Linked DNA regions of Homo sapiens: region 1 is linked to region 2. Evidence: fine-mapped expression QTL. Tissue or cell type: pancreas. Region 2 holds a variant in brackets; the other region holds the start of a gene. All regions are shown on one strand. Distances are between the middles of the regions.

The links. PIP is the estimated chance that this variant, and not a neighbour inherited with it, causes the effect.
Region 1: it holds the start of CARD6, and the variant in region 2 is fine-mapped to the expression of CARD6 in pancreas (GTEx, PIP 0.92).

What each region holds. Positions count from the first base shown.
Region 1 is chr5:40,835,911-40,846,948 of GRCh38, reverse strand. CARD6 (caspase recruitment domain family member 6) reads right to left here and starts at 5,582. Exons shown (of 3, transcript NM_032587.4): 1 at 5,284-5,582; 2 at 3,240-3,797. The coding sequence starts at 5,566. RefSeq lists an enhancer at 10,325-11,038.
Region 2 is chr5:40,813,453-40,824,704 of GRCh38, reverse strand. No RefSeq gene overlaps it. Among named protein-coding and RNA genes, the nearest start is that of SNORD72, 14 kb to the left of the region's middle. The variant C/T (reference allele first, on the strand shown) is at 5,078.

The sequences.
Region 1 (11,038 bases), 22 kb before region 2:
CAACCCTAAACCTGGCTTTGAGACTTGCTTTGGTCAACAGAATGTGGCAGAAGTAATGGTGTTATGGGTTGAATTTTGTCCCCCTCAAAAAGATATGAAGTCCCCCAGTAATGCAGAATGTGGCTTTATTTTGTAAATAGCATCTTTATCTTTACAGAGGTAATTAAGTTAAAATAAGGTCATGGAGGGGGGCCTAAATCAGTATAATTGGTGTCTTAATAAAAAAGAAAAATTTAGACACAGAGACATGCACAGAGGATAGATGATGTGAAGAGACACAGGGAGAAAATGGCCATCTGTAAGTCAAGGAATGCACGAAGCTACCAGGGGCTAGGAGAGAAGCCTGAGACAAATCCTTTCCTAGCACCTCCAGAGGGAGCATGACCCTCCTGATACCTTGATATCAGGCTTCTGGCCTCCTGAACTGTGAGACAAGAAATTTTTGTTGTTCTAAAGCCACTCATTTGTGGTACTTTGTTACAGCAGCCCTAGGAAACAGATACAGATGGCATAGATGGCATGATGATCGTTCTAAAGCTAAGACTCAAAAGGCCTTCACTACTTCTCTGTCTCCCCCCCTCCACCTTGCTCTCTCTCCCTTTCTCTCTCCTTTACCCTCATCATAAGAATATACTTGGCCAGGCGCGGTGGCTCATGTCCATAATTCCAGCACTTTGGGAGGCCGAGGTGGGTGGATCACCTGAGGTCAAGAGTTCGAGACCAGCCTGGCCAACATGGTGAAACCCCATCTCTACTAAAAATACAAAAATTAGCCAGGCGTGGTAGTGGGCACCTGTAATCCCAGCTACTCAGGAGGCTGAGGCAGGAGAATCGCTTGAACCCAGGAGGCAGAGGTTGCAGTGAGCCAAGATCATGCCACTGCACTCCAGCCTGGGCAACAGAGTGAGCCTCCATCTCAAAAAAAAAAAAAAGAATATACTGCATCTATTCTGAAAACAAGCCCAGAGTAGCCTGCTTGAAGATGAGAGACCAGCCTTCAACCACCTCATCACAGATGCATGAGTGAACCCAGGGAAGACCAGCAGAACTGCCCAGCCAACCACAGACATGTGAACAATAATAAACTCTCAGTGTTTGAAGTGACTGAATTTTCAGATGATTTGTTATGTAGCATTATTGAGGCCAGGAGTTCAAGACCAGCCTGGGCAACGTGGTGAAACCCAGTCAGTACCTGATACAGAAAAAAAATTTCATGAAAACCAAACAATATGTAAGAGATGCACTGCAATATTAGAATGTTACCTACGGAAGAAGGTAAATGGGAAATGGAGAAAAAAACAGAATAGATAAACAGGGGATTTTTGCAGAATAATGATGATACTATGCAATGAATTAATTAATTCAACCCTATGCACCAACTAAAATAAATAAATAAAAATTAAGAATGGGGCCCCAAAATAATCATGTATTAAGAAGTTATTTGGGGGTGGGGCAAGAGGCATGGGTTGAATTATGTCCCTTACAAAATTCATATGTTGAAATCCTAACCCCCAGTACCTCAGAATGTGATGTTATTTGGAAATAGGGCCATTGCAGATGTAATTAGTTTTAATAATGTTATTAGGGTGGGCCCTAATCCAATATGACTGGTGTCCTTTTTTATTTTGGCCAAAGGGGTGCACACTCAGGGACAAGGACATTTGAAGGTGAAGGCATATCAGAGGGATGCTTGCACAAGCCAAGCAGTGTCAATGATTTCCAGCAAACCACCAGGAAAGCTAGGATCCTTCAGATCACATCCTTCAGAAGGAACCAACCCTTGTCCAGGCACAGTGGCTCATGCCTTAATCCCAGCATTTTGGGAGGCCAAGGTGGGTGGATTACTTGAGGTTAGGAGTTCGAGACCAGCCTGGCCAACATGGTGTAACCTCGTCTCTACTAAAACAACAAAAATTAGCCAGGCGTGGTGGCACGCACCTGTAATCCCAGCTACCTGGGGAGCTGAGGCAGGTGAATCGCTTGAACCCGGGAGGCGGAGGGTACAGTGAGCAAGGTCACACCATTGCACTCCAGCCTGGGCGACGAGTGAGACTCTGTTTCAAAAAAAAAAAAAAAAAAAGAAGGAAGCAACCCTGTCAGTACTTTGATACTTTGATTTCAGATTTCTAGCCTCCAAAAGAGTGAGACAAGAAATCTGTGTTTATTGTTTAAGCCACTGATTTTGTGGTATTTTGTTACAGCATCCCTCACAAACTGATACAAGGTGTGATGAGGAAGAAATGACTCTCTTCCTACCCATAAGTGGATTATGAGTCCCCAAGATTTGAAATTAATGTGAGATGGTAGCTACATTTTCATCCTCTACTCAGAACTTAGTGATGTCTGTTTTCCCAGGCAATATCACTCCAATGAAACACTTCTCATATTTTGAATTTTCATTAAGAAATATTCAGATTTGGCTAGGTGCAGTGGCTCACACCTGTAATCCCAGGATTTTGGGTGGCCAAGGTGGGCAGATCACTTGAGCCCAGGAGTTCGAGACCAGCCTGAGCAACATGGCAAAATCCCATCTTTACAAAATACAAAATTAGCCAGGCGTGGTGGCAGGCACCTGTAATGCTAGCTACTCAGGAGGCTGAGGTAGGAGGATCACCCGAGCCTGGGAGGTAGAGGCTGCGGTGAGTCATGATTGTGCCACTGCACTCCAGCCTGAGTGAGACCCTGTTTAAAAACAAATTTTTTTTAAATAAAGAAATATTCAGATTCAAGATACAAATATAATTCTCATCAAGATGGCATTATGTGGACTGGATCAAGCCAAGTAACAATATTTTGGGATCTTAGCCATTTACTGACTGTTTTCACTTAAATAGTCAAACCCATAATCCCCATATCTCTCTGGTCACAAAGGCACTAAAATAACTAAAGTGGTTTAACCTGAGAAATAGGTTAGCCTGAAATTAATGATTAGCAACTCCTCGTACGTATAATGGGAAATTAATGATTGGCAACTCCTTATACGAACTACAGAAATTTACAAACTGACAATCAATATTTACTTTTGCTTATGCTGTCCATCATTTCCTAGGTCCTGGGAGCTCCTTTAAGTCAACACCTACCTCGAGGAGATTCCAGGTCAGAGAGGCACGAGGAATTTCTTAGTAGTTGATTTTCTGCTGACATCTGTCCCTTTTTCATCCCCCATCCCCATTATGTCATGGCAAGCTTATTAACTTATTAAGTTGTTGCCTAACTAACTATACAAGATATTTCCATACCTTCTATACTTTTCTCCTGTTCCTCCTCCAATGAAAGGCTGGTTTCTGATCCCTCATAACTTGGTTCTTCACCAGAGAACTCTGTGGTTTCTGAATTCTCGAAGTCCTCTTCACCATCATATCCAACGTGCTCTGGGTCATCATAAACCTCCTCTTCCACAGTGGCTTCTGCATCTTCAGGGGTGTCAACAGATCCTAGATATTCCTCTTTTCCTAAGTATAAAGAATCATCTAGCTCCTCATATCTCTGTCCATCTTTTATATATGTAATAGTTGCTGGAACTTCACATCCAACTTTCTCAACTGAATATGATAATGTGACTTCTGGTGTGTCATATTCCTTCTCATTCTTCCTGGCAGACAAAGCTGTTTCCCTATAACTAGTTTTCTTGTCCCTGAAAAACTCAGAGGTTTCCAAATCCAAGTGTTCCTTCTCACTGAAGAACACTGTGATCTCAGGGGCTTCAGGCTGTTTTATTCCAGGAGAAAAAGCATCTTCTGAATTACTGCTTGCCCCCATAGATTGAGGAGGTACTGTATTCTCATGTTTTAAAACTTCTGCAAAGAAAAGAATTGTTTTTCCCAATTAAGAAAAAGAAGCTGTATAACAGCTAGAGTTCCTGAGGCCTCAAAGCTTCATCCCTCTCCTTTTATTTATTTATTTATTTTTTGAGACAGAGTTTCACTCTTGTTGCCGAGGCTGGAGTGCAATGGCACGATCTGGGCTCACTGCAACCTCAACCTCCCGGGTTCAGGTGATTCCCCTGCCTCAGTCTCCCAAGTAGCTGGGATTACAGGCATGCGCCATGATGCCCAGCTAATTTTTGTATTTTTAGTAGAGACAGTGTTTCACTATGTTGGTCAGGCTGGTCTCAAACTCCTGACCTCAGGTGATCCATCTGCCCCGGCCTCCCAAAGTGCTGGGATTACAGGTGTGAGCCACAGCGCCCAGCCACCTCTTATTTCACTGGAGGACAGGAATACCTAACACCTCCTATATAACTTGCATGTCAACATGTCAACTTTCAGAACTTTCTTTTTTCCACTAAAAAAAAAAATCAGATCACACCACTGTCTTGCTTAAAGTTTGAGTCCTTCCTAGCAACCTTACAGGGTAAGTGAATAAAACGAAAAATTTGAATCATATGAACAGTGTTTACTTGTGGACTTACTGTGACTCACAACAGACTCACGTCTCTTGGGGTCATTGCTAATGAAATCTGATCACAAATAATTTCTAATCAGTAAGCAAATGGCTCTATTTGGAATAGTGTGCTTTAGAAATAATAAAAGAAAAATTTCTAAGCATATAAATCTTGTCCTAAATTAGGTATCACTAACATTCACCTTTTTATCTGAGCCTCTACCTCTCTAACATCCCTTAAAATAATTTTGAATTTTTTTTTAGATTCCTAGAAAAAGAGCTAGACCTAGTCCTAGTAGTAATTTACAGAATTGCTAAATAACTGGAAGAATTGCTTTTTCATGGACTACTAGTTATCTTTGAACCATTTAAGAATTAGCACTGGAATTGCTCCAGAAAACAGCTGCTGCTGGCATTCTTATCACCAAAAAAATGAAACTACTGATTTGCCATCTATGTGTTAAAAATTATTTTCCTTGTATTTTCAAAACGGCTATACTAAGTGAAAGATACAGCTTGTGGTCTTGGCACTGTAAATATCCACGAATTCATCTACTTGAAAAACAAACCCTGGATTGTGTTATTATTAAAGTATTTTCCTTCCAACTGTGAGATTTTAGCATGTTACTGCCAGAATAATGAGCAGTTTGTTAGCACTAAAACAACTTCAAGTTTTGAGTACAGTCTGAAAAACAAATTATCGATTCAGTAGACCAATAAGATGTTAAATTTCAGAAACTTTTTAAATTCCAGTTTTTCCCTATTTCATATTTCAATGAAAATTATCTCCAGAAAAAGACTAACAAAAATAAAAGGCAACAATTTTCTTTCATTTTGTTTTCTTTTTCAGAAAGTCTGCCCCCTTCCTCTCACCCCAAAAAGTATACAAAGTCAACTTACCATGCCTTAAGCCGCAAATGGCAGCTGACTGTGGAAAAGTACTAAATAAACACTTGAGAAAATGCTGACAGGTCGCCTCTCCCTTTTTCTGTACCAAAATTAACAGCTTCCGACTTTTCTTCAGGAGATCTGTAACATTCTCCAGAGTCTCATACTCTTCCTCAGAAATCAGCCTCCGAGAAGTTAACGTGTCTAAGATAGAATCAGGATCATGTTGAAGGATTTCAAGCAACTTTTTTCTTTCTCTTTCTATGATCTCTGAGGGAGTACTCTCGGTAGCCATTGTTCCTGTTTCCTCTAAACCAGGAAATATATTATGAAATCATCCTAATGAATAAGTAAAAGTTAAAAAAAGAATGACAAAGAACAATTCTATTTGGCTAAGCTTTAACATGTCAATGATGCCTAGTGTTGGAGAGTGCAGATACAAGCACAGTGGGGCAACCCAGCTCGGAGCACTCTCTGATCCGGGGTCCTTGTGGATTATTTATCTGCTCTTTTGAAGTCTTGATAAATTCTCACCATGACTCAGACCCAGGGTCACCTCCTCCAAGAAGTCGCTCTTGAACTTCAGGTTGGACTAGGTATTCCCTGCTCAGAGAACTATACTATGATGCCAAGAATGTAAATTATTAATTGATATTTGGTGGGCAATATGGCAATATACAGCAATAAATAAATAAAGTTGAAGACAGACAAAAATAAAACTTCATATCCTTCAACCCAGCAATTCCAGTTCTAGGAAATTATCTTAAGGAAATAATTGAGCAAATGCCCGAAGATGTATGTACAAGAATCTGCATTACAACATTGTTTACAACAGTACAAAATTGAAAATAACCAAAGTTGGGGTTTAGGGAATAAATATTGACATGTCGACAGTGAAACACCAAAGAACTGTTAAAAAGGATAAAGTACATCTCTACATATTGACAAGTAATGATATCCATGATATATTGCTATGGAAACAGCAAGTTATAGATCTCATTTTTGTTTTAAAAAACTTAATGTGTATATAGTATATGTATATAATATGTATATGCAGATATGCATTATATTTTAAAGAAGACAAGAGATATCCCAAATTTTAACACTGGTTATCTCTGAGAATATGACTACAGGGAGATTTATACTTCCACTTTAAACATTACTATTTAATATTTTACATTTTTGGTTTTTTATTATTATTTATTTTAAGAAAATTACCTGGTTGGTCTTTATTTACTCCTTCATAGTTCACAAGAACCTGAAAGCGATCTGCATAACTAGCAACAGGATACTGGATGAATAAACTGTGATATTTCTTATAACATAATATTACATGGCATTCAAAAAGAATGAACTTCAGTGACCCACAATATAGAGAAATCATAACAATAGTAAGGAAAAACTGTAAATCCCAAAAGATTATATACAGTATGACAACCTTTTTAAAAGTTGAAAATAAACACACCCTTACATTTAAGAGTATACATGAAGTCATTAAAATTATACAAAACAAAAAGCAAAGAATGATAAATATGAAATTCAGAATGATGGTTACCTCGCATATGGGGAGCTTGGGGATGGGATGGGATTGGGGAGGAGATCATGGATGTCCTACAATGTAGGAGTTGGGCCTATCAGGGCTACTATATTGTTAAAGGTAAATAGCTAATATGTAAATAAAAGCAGAACATGCATGAACCAATGCTATTAGGAACCAAGGATAATGAGTAATACAATTCTGGTATCTCCAAGGTTAAAAAAGAATTTTAAAATCCTGGCTGGGCGAGGTGGCTCATGCCTGTAATCCCAGCACTTTGGGAGTCTGAGGAAGATCACTTGAGACCAGGAGTTTGAGGCCAACCTGAGCAACATAGCAAGACCCTGTCTCTACAAAAAATTTAAAAATTATCTGGTCGTGATGGTGCGCATCTGTAGTCCCAGCTGCTTGGGACAGGAGGCTGAGGCAGGAGAGCTGCTTCGGCCCAGAAGTTTGAGGTTGTAGTAAGTTACTCTAGCCTAGGCTCTTAAAAAAAAAAATCCTCATATGATATTAAAAATTAATATTAGGTAAGAGTTTTATAAAATTGAAGAGTTTTAAAATTTTTATTTACTTTGACCAATTATAATCATATATAGTTATGGGATATTCAGTAATTTTATATGTATGCAGTATGGAATGATTCACTCAAATTAACATATACATCACCTTCAATACTTATAATTTATTCCTCCTGTCTGTGACTTTGTATCCTTTGACCAGCACCCTTCCCTTCCCCGCAACTCCCAGCCTCTCTCTGGTAACCACCATTATACTCTAGGTAAGAGTTTTAAAATATGTATCTCAAAAGTATGGCTTTCAAGTGATGCATCCCACCTCATGTCCACAATTTGATTGGCACTGTCATAAAGATTGCCAATTTTTTGTTGTTGTTGTTCAACTTGACCAGGAAGGTACTTTAATAACAGGTGTCCCAAACCACCAGTCTCCTCTCCAATGCTCAACCCTAAATATGCTCCTTTCTCACAGTAACCTTTCTGAGATTTCAAAGCCAATGGGAAAAAAGTGTTCACTTGAAGTGGGAAACTTAGCACTGAAATTTAAACTTCTTTCTACAAGTTTTCCTTTTGTTTTGTTTTGAAACAGAGTCTCACTCTGTTGCCCTGACTGGAGTGCAATGGTGCAATCATAGCTCACAGCAGCCTCAAACTCCTGGGCTCAAGCAATCCTCCCCCCTCAGCTTCCTGAGCAGCTGGGAGTATAGGCTTGCGCCAACCTGTTCAGCTCTTTTTAAAAAAAAAATTTTGTGGAGACAGGGTTTCACTACATTGTCCAGGCTGGTCTCGAACTCCTCGGTTTAAGCAATCTTCCCGCCTTGGCCTCCCAAAGTGCTAAGATTACAGGCGTGAACCATATTTTTTTTATTATTTGTAGAGATGGGGTCTCTCTATGTTGCCCAGGCTGTCCTGGGCTCAAGTGATCCTCCCACCTTAGCCTCCCAGAGTGCTGCGATTACAAGTGTAAGCCACCATGCCAGGCTGTCTAGTTTAAATTGTTTGTTGATGGCCGGGTGCGGTGGCTCACGCCTGTAATCCCAGCACTTTGGGAGGCTGAGGTGGGCGGATCACCTGAGGTCGGGAGTTCAAGACCAGCCTGACCAACATGGAGAAACCCCATCTCTACTAAAAATACAAAATTAGCCGGGCATGGTGGTCGATGCCTGTAATCCCAGCTACTTGAGAGGCTGAGGCAGGAGAATCACTTGACCCCGGGAGACGGAGGTTGCGGTGAGCCAAGATAGCATCATTGCACTCCAGCCTGGGCAACAAGAGCAAAACTCCGTCTCAAAAAAAAAAATTGTTTCTTAATAACAGAAATTTGCATACCACAGCCTTAGAATGCAAAGGAAGTGAGGTGGGGGAAGGATGAGTGTAACCAGGATGTTCTCTATTATATAAAATATAGCCAGGAGGTACAAAATTGAAAGTATAGACCTCAAATCAGAATAATAACACAGGATTAAAAGTTTTAAATGTGTTCTATTTTATTATTGTTGTTTTTTGAGCTTTTTTTGTTTTGTTTTGTTAGGCTAGTCTCGAACTCCCAACCTCAGGTGATCTGCCTGCCTCAGCCTCCCAAAGTGCTGGGATACAGGTGTAAGCCACCGCACCCAGCCTTATTATTAGTTGTTGTTAATCTTACCGTGCTAATTCATAAATTAAACTTTATCATAGGTATGAATGTACAGTAAATTCTCCCTTGAATTGCTCCTAATGAATTTATGTGATGTTTTAAAGACAAAAGTCAACAGTAATTTCATGTATTGTAGAAATAAAAAGAGGCAGGTCTCAGTGCTGAGTCCTGGTGGTCAAGAGACTTGATTGTATCAGAACCATGGATGCAGGACTTAACATAGTTTCTATCACTGCCAAAAAGCAAAATGTCAGGGGGTGAATGCCTAGGCTAACAGCCTTAGATCATCCGTTTCAGATGTTGATCTAGTCCTGGCTGGGCGTGGTGGCTCACACCTGTCATCCCAGAACTTTGGGAGACTGAGGGGGTGCTGATCACTGGAGGTCAGGAGTTCGAGACCAGCCTGGCCAACATGGTGAAACCCTGTCTCTACTAAAAATACAAAATATTAGCCAGGCGTGGTGGTGGCGTGCGCCTGTAGTCCCAGCTACTTGGGAGGCTGAGGCACAAGAATTGCTTGAACCCGGGAGGTAGAGGTTGCAGTGAGTCGCGATGGCACCACTGCACTCCAGGCCAGGTGACAGGTGAGACCCTGTCTCAAAAAAAAAAAAAAAAAAAAAGTTGATACAGTCACTAGCCCTGACCTAAACCTAGCAATTGTATAGAAAATTGGAGGGTCTGACTAGCCTTCATAGACCTCTTTAAAGAAAGCCAAGGGTTTACTTGATCAGGGCAAAATTTACATGGTTTGACATACACCAAAAAGAACCACCGAACACTAGAGAGAGGAGGAAAAATAATTCTCTCCTGTCTTCAATTCTGGGAATGTCTGGAGTAAAGAGACTGACATAATGCCTGTCACACTGCTTGGTTCCTTAATGGTTGACACCTGTCCTACCTTTTCTACACTGACCTCATTTCTCATAGTCCCCGTGGTAGGCAGAATAATGGCTGTCTCCAAAGATAACAAGGTATTAATCCCCTCAACCTACGAATAAATTAGGTTATGTGGCAAAGGACAATTATAATTGCAGAGGGAATTAAGGTTGCTAATTAGCGAAACTCGAGATAAGGAAGTTACCTGGATGGAGTCAATGTAATCACAAGGGGCCTTAAAAGTAGGAGAAGGATGGCAGGGCACCCGAACCCTTTGAGAGACCAAGACAGGAAGATTCAGGAGTTCAAGACCAGTCTGGACAACAGTGAGACCTTGTCTCTACTACAAATAAAAATAAAAGGAAAGGAAAAAGAATAAGACAGATGCAGAATAAAGAGTAATGCAATGTGAGAAAGACTACAGTAGTCTCCACTTATCCAAGGTTTCCCTTTGCAGGATTTCAGGGTTTGTTACCCCATGGCCAACCATGGTTTAAAAATAGTTGAGTACAGGACAATAAGATATTTTGAGAAAAAGAGACCGACCACATTCACATAACTTTTATTACAGTATACTGTTATGATTGTTCTATTAGTTGTTGTTAATCTTTTATGGTGCCTAATTCATAAATTTAACTTCATCACAGGTACACATGTACCGAAAAAACAGTATATATAGGGTTTGGTATTGTGGTTTCAGGCATCCACTGAGGGTGTTGGAACTTAACCCACAGAAACGGGGGGGAACTACAGTATCACTGGTTTTGAAGATGCAAGGGAGCAATAAACCAAGGAGTTTGGGCAGTCTCTAGAAGCTGAGAAAGGAAAGAAAACAGATTCTCCCTCCTAGAACGGAAAGCAGCTCTGGCAACATTTTATTTTTAGTTTTCTCAGTTTTTTTTGAGACAGAGTCTCACTCCGTCATCCAAGCTGGAGTGCAATGGCGCAATCTCGGCTCACTGCAACCTCCACCTTCCGGGTTCAAGCCTCCCTCCACCTCCACCCCCTGAGTAGCTGGGTTGGCAGGCGCGCGCCACCACGCCTGGATAATTTTTTGTATTTTTTTTGTAGCGACAGTGTCTCCCTATGTTGCCCAGGCTGGTCTCCAACGCCTGGGCTCAAGAGATCCGCCCGCCTCAGCCTCCCAAAGTGCTGGGATTACAGGCGTAAGCCACGGCGCCAGGCCCTTGGAAACTATAT
Region 2 (11,252 bases):
GGTTCTATAAGAGCACATATTGTGGAGTAAAATCCTCAAAAGTTTTAAAATTTTTGAACAGTTAAATTTTGAATAGATTTCATATTTATCAGACAACTCTTGGGGTCTGAATAGATGTACTACCTGGAGATTTAAGGATAGTATCACACTCTGCCCTCTGGCATTTTTCAACGTCTTGAGTTCAGACCAATGTTGAAAATCTGTAGATGCAAGCATAGACAGGCACTATATGTATGTAATGAACTACCATGTTTTAGCCCACTAACCAAGTTTTTCTTATTTCTTTGCAATAAGTAAACCTTGGGCCAGCCGTGGTGGCTCACGCCTGTAATCCCAGCACTTTGGGAGGCCAAGGCAGGCAGATTGCCTGAGCTCAGGAGTTTGAGACCAGCCTGGACAACATGCTGAAACCCCATCTCTACTAAAAATACAAAAAATTAGTTGGTCATGGAGGCAAGCAGCTGTAATCCCAGCTCCTCGGGGGACTGAGGCACAAAAATTGCTTGAACCCAGTAGGCGGAGGTTGCAGTGAGCTGAGATTGTGCCACTGCATTCCAGCCTGGGTGACAGAGCAAAACTGTGTCTCAAAAAAACCACCACCAACAAAAAACCTTGATTATTGGACTAAAACATGGTAATTCACTATGTACGTATAAATAACATGTAGAGTATAAAAATTTAAACATTGCTCAGCAGCAGAATGTAAAATAAAACATTTAAACATCTAATAAAAACAGCATATCAGAGTTCAGTGAAGAGAAAGAAATAACAGTAATTTGAACACGAAGTTTAAGGGATTCAGGTAATGAGGGGCTGGGTATTAGAAGTTAAAAAGAACTCTAAAGAGAAAGCAGAAATGGAGTAGCCACTGTCCCTGGAGCTGAGATACAGCACCCAAGGAAGAGTCCTCCTTATCCCCAGAGCTGAGATCTAGATGTCAGAGAAAGTGCAACATAGCTCACTAGATGATGTGTCTTGCCTCTGGGACATCCTGGAAAACCACCAGAAAGAGCACCAGTTGCACTGAGGAGGTGGCTTGTCAACAGCATTCTGCTGTGAAGCTGCTCAAAAAGGTTCTTTGGGAAGCTTGTAGTCATGAGGTGCCTCTGGTCAGTGCACATGGCAGGAGTCTAATGCTGGAGAAGCCACCACATTGCAGGAGCCTAGCCCTGGAGGAATGACAGACCCCTTTCTGACGTTTACCAATTATCTTTTTTTTTTTTTTTTTTTTTTTTGAGATGGAGTTTTGCTCTTGTTGCCCAGGCAGGAGTGCAATGGCGTTATCTCGGCTTACCCTGCAACCTCTGCCTCCCGGCTTCAAGCGATTCTCCTGCCTCAGCCTCCCAAGTAGCTGGGATTATAGGCATGCACCATCACGCCCAGCTAATTTTGTATTTGTAGTAGAGACGGGGTTTCTCCATGTTGGTCAGGCTGGTCTCGAACTCCTGACCTCAGGTGATCCACCCACCTCGGCCTCCCAGAGTGCTGGGATTACAGGCATGAGTCATTGCGCCCGGTCCCAAATATCATTTTAATACAGCTTAGAGCTTGCTATGGTTTGTGTTTGTGTTCTTTTGTCTTAGTCTGTTTTTTGCTGCTATAACAGAATAACTGAGACTGGATATTTACAAAGAACAGGAATTTATACTGTTACAATTTTAGAGACTGGAAGTCCAAGATCAAGGTGCAGGCAGCTTGTGTGGGCCTTCTTACTGCATCTTCATATGGCAGAAGAACGAAGGACAAGAGAGACAAAAGGAGGCTGAATTCACCCTTATTAATTCCACTCATGAGAGCAGGATCACCTCTTCTTTTTTGTTTTGTTTTTGAGACGGAGTCTCGCTCTGTCACCGAGGCTGGAGTGCCGTGGTGTCATCTCGGCTCACTGCAATCTCCGCCTCCCTAGTTCAACCAATTCTCCTGGCTCAGCCTCCCAAGTAGCTGGTACTACAGTACATGCCACCACACCCAGCTAATTTTTGAATTTTTTTTGCAGAGATGGGGTTTTACCATGTTGGTCAGGCTAGTCTCGAACTCCTGACCTCAAATGATCCACCCACCTCAGCCTCCCAAAGTGCTGGGATCACAAGTGTGAGCCACCTTGCCCAGCCAGGATCACTTCTTAAAGGTCCCACTTAACACTGTTATAATGACAATTAAATTTCAACATACATTTTGATGGGGATAAATATTCTAACAATAGCTCACTCCAAAATTCAAGTGGAAACTTAATGTCCCAATGTTATAGTATTGAGGGGTGGGGCCTTTAGGAGGTAGTGAGGTCATGAGGGCTCATCCCCATGAATGCGAATAAGGACTTTATAAAACAGGCTTCACACCCAGTATGGCCCTGTTTGCCCTAAGCCTTCCATCACATAAGGAAATAGCGTTTGTCCCCTTTTGTCTTTCTATCCCTTCCACCATATGAGGACACAGCATTTGTAAGGATGCAGCATTCAAGATACCATCCTGGGAGCAGAAATGGCCCTCACTAGACACTGAATCTGCCTACACCTTGATCTTGGACTTCCCAGCCTCCAGAACTGTGAGAAATACATTTTCGTTGTATATAATTGATATAGTTTGAATATATATATGAATATATAGTATCGTTTGAATATATGTCTCCACCAAATTTCATGTTGAACAGTAATCCCCAATGGTGGAAGTGGGGCCAGGTGGGAGGTATTTGGGTCATGAGGGGCAGACCCCTCATGGCTTGGTGCCATCCTCTAGCTAGTGAATTCTCATGAGATCTGGTCGTTTGAAAGTGTGTGGCACCTCCCACCACTCTCGCTTGCTCCTGTCGTACCATGTAAGATGCCTGCTCCCGCTTTGGCTTCCACCATGAGTAAAAGCTCCTTGAGGCCTCCCCAGAAGCTGAGCAGATGTCGTTGCCATGTTTCCTGTACAGCCTGCAGAGCTATGAGCTAATGAAACCTCTTTTCTTTGTAAATTACCCAATCTCAGGTATTTCTTTATAGAAATGCAAGAATAGCCTAAGAATAATCTACCCAGTTCATGGTATTTTGTTACAGCAGCCCAAACAGACGAAGAATAGTTTTACAACTTGCCTCAGTGATTAATCAGCAAAGTGATTCACTCCCAATCAAAACTTGTTTGAACACTGGTTTGCTAATGATCAAAAATAATTGTCAAGCAGGCAGAATATCCTTGATGACCTGACACACACTTTTTCAACTCTAAAAGGGCATCTTATTTTTGTTTTCTTAAGGAAGTACCTTTCTATGGCTTGCATGAACTGACCAAAGAGGGAAGAAAGTAGGGAATCTTTAACATAGAGCTAGTAGGTAAGGCACACTGTTTAAGATCAGACATAGTGCCTTAGAACACAGCCACACACAGCTTGGTTGATTACATGATACAGCTGATGCAAGTGGGCCTGGACCTGAAACTAGACCTAATAACTAGGAGGAAATTTTGGGAAACATTGGACCAGCATTCCCAAATGCTAAACATGTACACTATCACAAAGACACAATGTTTTACCCATGGAAATTTGTTGCTGTATTATTTATAATACAAGAAAATAGAGCAGCTGTGCTGGGATTACAGGATGTGGTGGCTCATGCCTGTAATCCCAGCACTGTGGGAGGCCAAGGTAGACAGATTGCTTGAACCCAGAAGTTCAAGACCAGCCTGGACAACATGGCGAAACCCCATCTCCACAAAAAATACAAAATTTAGCCAGGCATCATAGCACATACTTGTAGCCCCAGCTACCAGGGAGGCTGAGGTGGCAGGATCACTTGAGCCCAGGAGGTTGAGGCTGCAGCTGTGAGCATGCTACTGCACTCCAACCTGGGTGACAGAGTGAGATTCTGTCTCAAAAAAAAAAAAAAAAAAGAAAAGAAAAAAAGAAAAAGGAAGTAGAAAAGTAGAAACAACTGGCCAGGCGTGGCTCATGCCTGTAATCCCAGAACTTTGGGAAGCCAAGGTGGGTAGATCACTAGAAGACCAGCCTACCCAACATGGTGAAAACCCACATCTCTACTAAAAATACAGAAAATTAGCCGGGCATGGTAGCAGGCACCTGTAATCCCAGCTACTTGGGAGGCTGAGGCAGGAGAATCGTTTGAACACAGGAGGCAGAGCTGCAGTGAGCCGAGATCGCACCATTGCACTCCAGCCTGGGCAACAAGAGTGAAAAGTGAAGGCTGGGCACGGTGGCTCACACCTGTAATCCCAGCACTTTGGGAGGCTGAGGTGGGTGGATCACCTGAGGTCAGGAGTCCAGCCTGGCCAACATGGTGAAAACCCCTCTCTACTAAAAATACCCAAAATTAGCTGGGCGTAGTGGTGGGCACCTGTAATCCCAGCTACTCAGGAGGCTGAGACAGGAGAATCGCTTGAACCCGGGAGGTGGAGGTTGCAGTGAGCTGAGATCATGCCATTGCACTCCAGCCTGGGCAACAAGAGTGAAACTGTGTCTCAAAAAAAAAAAAAAAAAAGAAAAGAAAAGAAAAGAAAAAGAAAAGTAGAAACAACTAAATCCCCTAAGTAGAGGTTGAGGTTGAGTTAAATAAATTATGGCATATCTTAATGGAATAGTAAAACAGCTCTTCAAACAAACAAACAAACAAACAAACAAAAACAACCAAGGCTTTACTAGCTTCAGTAGTCAAGATAGTGAGTATTGGTGTAATAATAGATATATACACCAGTGAAACATAATGGAATCCAGATATAGGCTCACAGAAATATGGTCATTGATTTTTGACAAAGATGTCAAGGTAATTCAATCAAGAAAGGATAATCTTTTCAGCAAATTGTACTGGAACAACTAGACATCCATATGCAAAAATAAAATAAAAATAGAGTCTCTGTTCTGAGACTTAACAGAGTTAAATAAATAAATAAGTAGAATCTCTGCATGGAACTGCAGGTGAACAGAAAAAATATTTTTAATAAAATTAAAAGACTCTCAAACCTTGACTTGTACCACTAAGTCAGGATGGATCAACGATATAAATGTAAAACCTAAAATTCTAAAAACCTATGAGAAAAACAGGAGAAAATCTTTGTGACTTAGGGTTAGGCAAAGATTTCTTAGATA[C/T]GACATAAAAAGCACTATCTATTTTTTTAAATGATAAATTGGGCTTTATCACAACTAAACTCTCTGTTTTCCAAAAGACACAAGAAAATAAAAAGGTTTGGAGAAAATATATAAATACATGTATGATATGTATATATATATATATATATATATACACATACATATCACTTGAACCTGGGAGGCGGAGGTTGCAGTGAGTGGAGATCATGCCACTGCACAGAGTGAGACTCCATCTCAAAAAAAAAAAAAAAGAAAAGAAAACAAAAAACATTTTTTTTTTTTTTGAGACAGAGTCTCACTCTGTCACCCAGGCTGGAGTGCAGTGGCATGATCTCGATCTCGGCTCACTGCAAGCTTTGCCTCTTGGGTTCACGCCATTCTCCTGCCTCAGCCTCCTGAGTAGCTGGGACTACAGGCACCTGCCACCACACCCGGCTAATTTTTTTTTTGTATTTTTAGTAGAGACGGGGTTTTACCGTGTTAGCCAGGACGGTCTCGATCTCCTGACCTCATGATCCATCCGCCTCGGCCTCCCAAAGTGCTGGGATTACAGGCGTGAGCCACCGAGCCTGGCCAAAACCAATTTTTTTAAATGGGCAAAATATCTGAACAGATAGTTCATCAAATAATAAATATGCATGGCAAATAAACAGATGCAAAGATGCTCAACATCATTAGTCCTTAGGGAAATGCAAATTGAAATACAATGGAATAATATTGCACATCTACTAGAATGGCTAAAATAAAAAATATACAATGACAATATCAAGTGCCAATGAGAAATTCTTTGCTGGTAGAAATGAAAAATGATACGGCCACTTTGAAAAAAATTTGGCTGTTTCTCACAATTCGCAATTGCAAAGATAACCAACTTAAGTGCCCATCAACCAACGAGTGGATAAAGAAAATGTGTTTTATATACACAGTAGAATACTACTCAGCCATAAAAAGGAATGAAATAATGTCTTTTGCAGCAACTTGGATGGAGCTAGTGGCCATTATTCTAAGTGAAGCAACTCAGGAATGAAAAACCAAATATATGTTCTCACTTATAAGTGGCAGCTAATCTATGAGGATGCAAAGGCATAAGAATGATGTAATGGACTTTGGGGACTTATCAGGGAAGTTCAGGAGGAAAATTAGGTATAAAAGACTGTATATTGGGTACACTGTACACTGCTTGGGTGATGGGTGCGTTAAAGTTTCAGAAATCACCACTAAAGAATGTATCCATGTAACCAGAAACCACCTGGACCCTAAAAACTATTGAAATAAAAAATTTTTAATGCGGCTGTTTCTTATAAAGTGAACAATACATTTACTATACAACCCCAGCAATCCCACTCTTAACTATATCTACTCGAGAAGAATGAAAACACAGTCTTGTGTGTGAATGTTTATAGAAGGCTATTCCTGCTCCAAGAACTGGAAACAACTTAAACATTGTAAGTAGAGAATGGACAAATTTTGGTATATGCATACAATGGAATACTATTCATCAATAAAAATAAATGAACTACTGATACATGCAACACAATATGGATGAGTCTCAAAACAAAAGGATTATGCTAAGTGAAAGGAGTTGGATACAAAAGGCTGCATACTGTACAGGTCCTTTTTTTTTTTTTTTTTTTTTTTTTTTCAGACAGAGTCTTGCTGTGTCTCCCAGGCTGGTGTGCAGTGCAGTGGCAAGATCTTGACCCACTGCAGCCCCCGCCTCCTGGATTCAAGCAATTCTCCTGCCTCAGCCTCTGGAGTAGCTGGGATTACAGGTGCTCACCACCATGCCCACCTAATTTTTGTATTTTTAGTAGAGATAGGGTTTCACCATATTGGCCAGGCTGGTCTTGAACTATTTTTTTTTTTTTTGAGATGGAGTCTCACTCTGTTGCCCAGGCTGGAGTACAATGGTATGATCTCGCTCATTGCAACTTCTGCCTCCTGGGTTCAAGCAATTCTCCTGCCTCAGCCTCCCTAGTAGCTAGGATTACAGGCACCCACGACCAGGCCCGGCTAATTTTTGTATTTTTAGTAGAAACGGGATTTTGCCATGTTGCCCAGGCTGGTCTCCAACTCCCGACCTTTGGGATCTGCCCGCCTTGGCCTCCCAAAGTGCTGGGATTACAGGCGTGAGCCACCACGCCCAGCCTGGTCTCGAACTCTTGACATCAAATGGACCACCTGCCTTGGCCTCCCAAAATGCTGGGATTATAGGCATGAGCCACTGTACCTGGCCACAATTCTCTTTATATGACATTCTGAAGAAGGCAAAACTAGAGGGACAGAAATCAAAAAGGCATAAGGGAATGTTTTTGGGTGATGGAGGTATTTCATATCTTTATTATGGAATTTACACAACTATATACAGTTTCTTTTCTTTTTTCTTTCTTTTTTTTTTTTTGAGATGGAGTTTTGCTCTTGTTGCCCAGGCTGGAGTGCAATGGCGCAATCTCAGCTCCCCGCAACCTCCACCTCCCGGGTCCAAGTGATTCTCCTGCCTCAGCCTCCCTAGTAGCTGGGATTACAGGCATGTGCCACCACATCTGGCCAATTTTATATTTTTAGTAGAGAGGGGTATCTCCATATTGGTCAGGCTGGTCTCGAGCTCCTGACCTCAGGTGATCTGCCCGCCTTGGCCTCCAAAAGTGTGGGATTACAGGCATGAGCCACTGCACCTGGCCACAACTATATACATTTTTTGAAGCTCATAGAACTCTACACCTAGGCCAGGCAGGGTGGCTCAAATCTGTAATCCTAGCACTTCGGGAGGCCGAGGCAGGAGGATTACTTGTGCTCAGGAGTTCGAGACCAGCCTGAGCAACAATGTGAGACTCCGTCTTTACTTAAAAAAAAATTAATAAAATATATATACACACACACACATATATATATATACACATATATATATACACACATATATATACACATACATATATATATATAAAACTCTACACTTAGGGTGAATTTTACTGTATGTAAATTATACTTCAGTAAACTTAACTTTGAAAAGAAAGAATAAGAGAAATTAGAAGACGATGGAGCAATACCTTCAAAATTCTGAAGGAAATGTTTTCCAACTTAAAACCCTATATATATATATATCCAGCCAAACTATAAAGTGTAAGAATAGAATAAAGATTTTCAACAAATATAGTCTCAGAAAAATGTGCTTCCCTGAGCCTTTCTCATAAAACTACTTGTGGGACACGTTTCTCCTAAAACTAGGGAGGAAAAAAAAAGAAAAACAAAAACACACAAAAGGAAAACTATGGCATGCAGAAAACAATAAATCCAACACAAGAGAAGGAGAAAAGGCATATCCAGGATGGTGTTGAAGGAAAAATTTTGGGTGATAACTGTGAGACGGGAGTGGGAGGCAAACAATTGAAGCAGGTAAGAAAGCTCCAGGATAGCTGTGTTCAAGATGAAACTGATAACACACCGTATGCATTTCAATGTCTTGAAATATTTCAGACAATTGGTAGAGAGTTTGGGTTGAATTAATAATAAGTACATAGAAGCCTAAGCAAGTAAAAAACATGATAAAGTCTTAATTCCAGACCAAAAAAAAAAGGCTTTTAGTAAAGGCCAATTATAGCATACGTAATCCAATGAAGCACCTAGAAAATCCTCTGTGTTAAAATTTCTTAGTTAAGCAATTTGACCCATTTCAGAAAAAATAAAGTATATCCGAACAAATTCCTAACAGAAAGAAAGTGAACTTCCCTCATAAAACCAGCTTAATTTCTGAAATTAAAAGCTCAACACATTTCATGATATACTTGAATTTAATTGTTTTACTCTGTGTAAGAGAAATAACAGATACAAAGACTGTGAGAATTAAATTAGTAATTCCATATACTGATTATGTATGTGTCTTAATTTGTTTGGGCTGCTATAACAAAATGCCTTAGACTGGATAATGTATAAACAATAGAAATGTATAGCTCACAGTTCTAGAGGCTGTGAAATCAACATCAAGGCACAGACAGTCTTGGTGTCTGGTAAGGGCTCTCTGCTTCAAAGATGGTGCCTTCTTGCTATCCTCACGTAACAGAAGGGAAAAGCAGCTCTCTGGGGCCATTTTAATAAGGCCATTAAATCTCATGCACAAGAGCAAAGTTCTCATGATCTAATCACCTCCCAAAGGCCCCACCTCTTAATATCATTGAGGGTTAGTTTTCAACATCTGAATTTTGGCAGGACACAAACATTCACACCATAGCATTACGTAAGGAATAATGTTCTTTACAGAAAAAGAAAAATAATTAGGTCTTTATCTTTTCTTTCTTACATTATTAATTACTGAAACCACCAAAGCTATACAATTGCTTAGTTCTTTGGAGTATTTTCTCTTGAAACATACAGTTAATGGGCCGGGTGCTGTGGCTCATGCCTATAATCCCAGCACTTTGGGAGGCTGAGGCGGGCAGATCACGAGGTCAAGAGATCAAGACCATCCTGGCCAAGATGGTGAAACTCTGTCTCTGCTAAAAATACAAAAAAATTAGCTGGGTGTGGTGGCTCTCACCTGTAGTCTCAGCTACTCGGGAGGCCGAGGTATGAGAATCACTTGAACCTGTAAGGCAGAAGTTGCAGTGAGCCAAGATCGTGCCACTGCACTCCAGCCTGGCGACAGAACGAGACTCCATCTCAAAAAAAAGAAATATACATTTAATGTAATATTTGACAAAACTATACCATTGTAAGATTCCTTTAAAAAGTATAAACTATTTTCAAATGTTTGAAAAAATATATTCAAGTGGAGACCAATCTTGCTTAAATGTTTTTATGTTTTATATTTTGCTTCTTGCAAAAGCATTTGAGGCTGTCAGAAAAGATATGGATGAACCTTAAATGCACATTGCTAAGGGAAATAAGCCAGTCTGGAAAGACTATATACTGTATGAGTCCAATTATATGACATTCTGAAAAAGGCAAACTATAGAGACAGTAAAAAGAGGTGAAGGGTTAAATAGGTGAAGCACAGGGAATTATTATTTTAGGGTGATGAAACTATTCTGTATGATACTGTAATAGTGGATATATGACATTATACAGTTGTCAAAACCTACAGAACTTTATAGCACAAAGTGAACCTTAAAGTATGCAAATCCTTAAAAAAATCATTTTGGGCTGGGCGTGGTGGCTCATGCCTGTAATCTCAGCACTTTGGGTGACTGAAGTGGGCAAATCGCTTGAGCCCAGGAGTTCAAGACCAGCCTGGGCAAAATGGCGAAACCCTGTCTCTACAAAACATATAAAAAATGAGCCAGGCATGGTGGTATGCATCTGTAGTCCCAGCTACTTAGGAGGCTGAGCTGGGAGGATCAGATGAGCCCGAGAGATTGAGACTGTAGTGAGCCATGATCATGTCACTGCACTCTAGTCAGGGCTACAGAGTGAGACCCTGTCTCAAAAAACAAAACAAAACACCCCATAAAACATTTTGGAGGTTGTGGTTGTGGTGTAAGGCCTAAAATTAAGGCTCAATATTATGTGTTGTCTTGACATCTGGTAAAACTGGGAGGGCCTTAAATTGCCTAGTGGTAAGTTCTCCTTCCCACTCTGCTCCCATGTGTAAGCTCCCCCAGCTCTTTGTCAAATGGACGGGCAAAGTTTTGCTAATCCCTGAGTAGTGGGTTTCAGTTTCCTGCCAGCTCTTGGAATTACTCAAACAACCAATTACATCCTCCACAGGAACCAGGGGCACCCCATCCTCTTGATACCACAAAGCCTGCCTCCCACAGCTTGATTGTTCATTCTGCTCCTGAATGCAGAGTGTGGCCCTGAGTGGTATGCGGTGTTCTTTTCCAGGCTGAGAGTATATGTAACTAACAGACTGCTGTTCACATCATCTGTTGTGTTGGGTGTTATGTGTTTGGTCATCCCCATTACCCTAGGGCAGGAATCCCTCCTTCACCAACAGGGAGAACAGCAAGTGATTAAAACAGAGACTGGGGGACTGGGGGAAATCCCAGATGGAATGCAGATTGTGACAACATAACCTATCTGGTATGATACATGTATGAAACAACCTCACTGAAAAGAGTGGAGGATGGGCCAGGCACGGTGGCTCACACCTGTAATCCCAGCACTTTGGGAGGTTGAGGTGGGTGGATCACCTGAGGTCGGGAGTTCAAGACCAGCCTGACCAACATGGAGAAACCCCGTC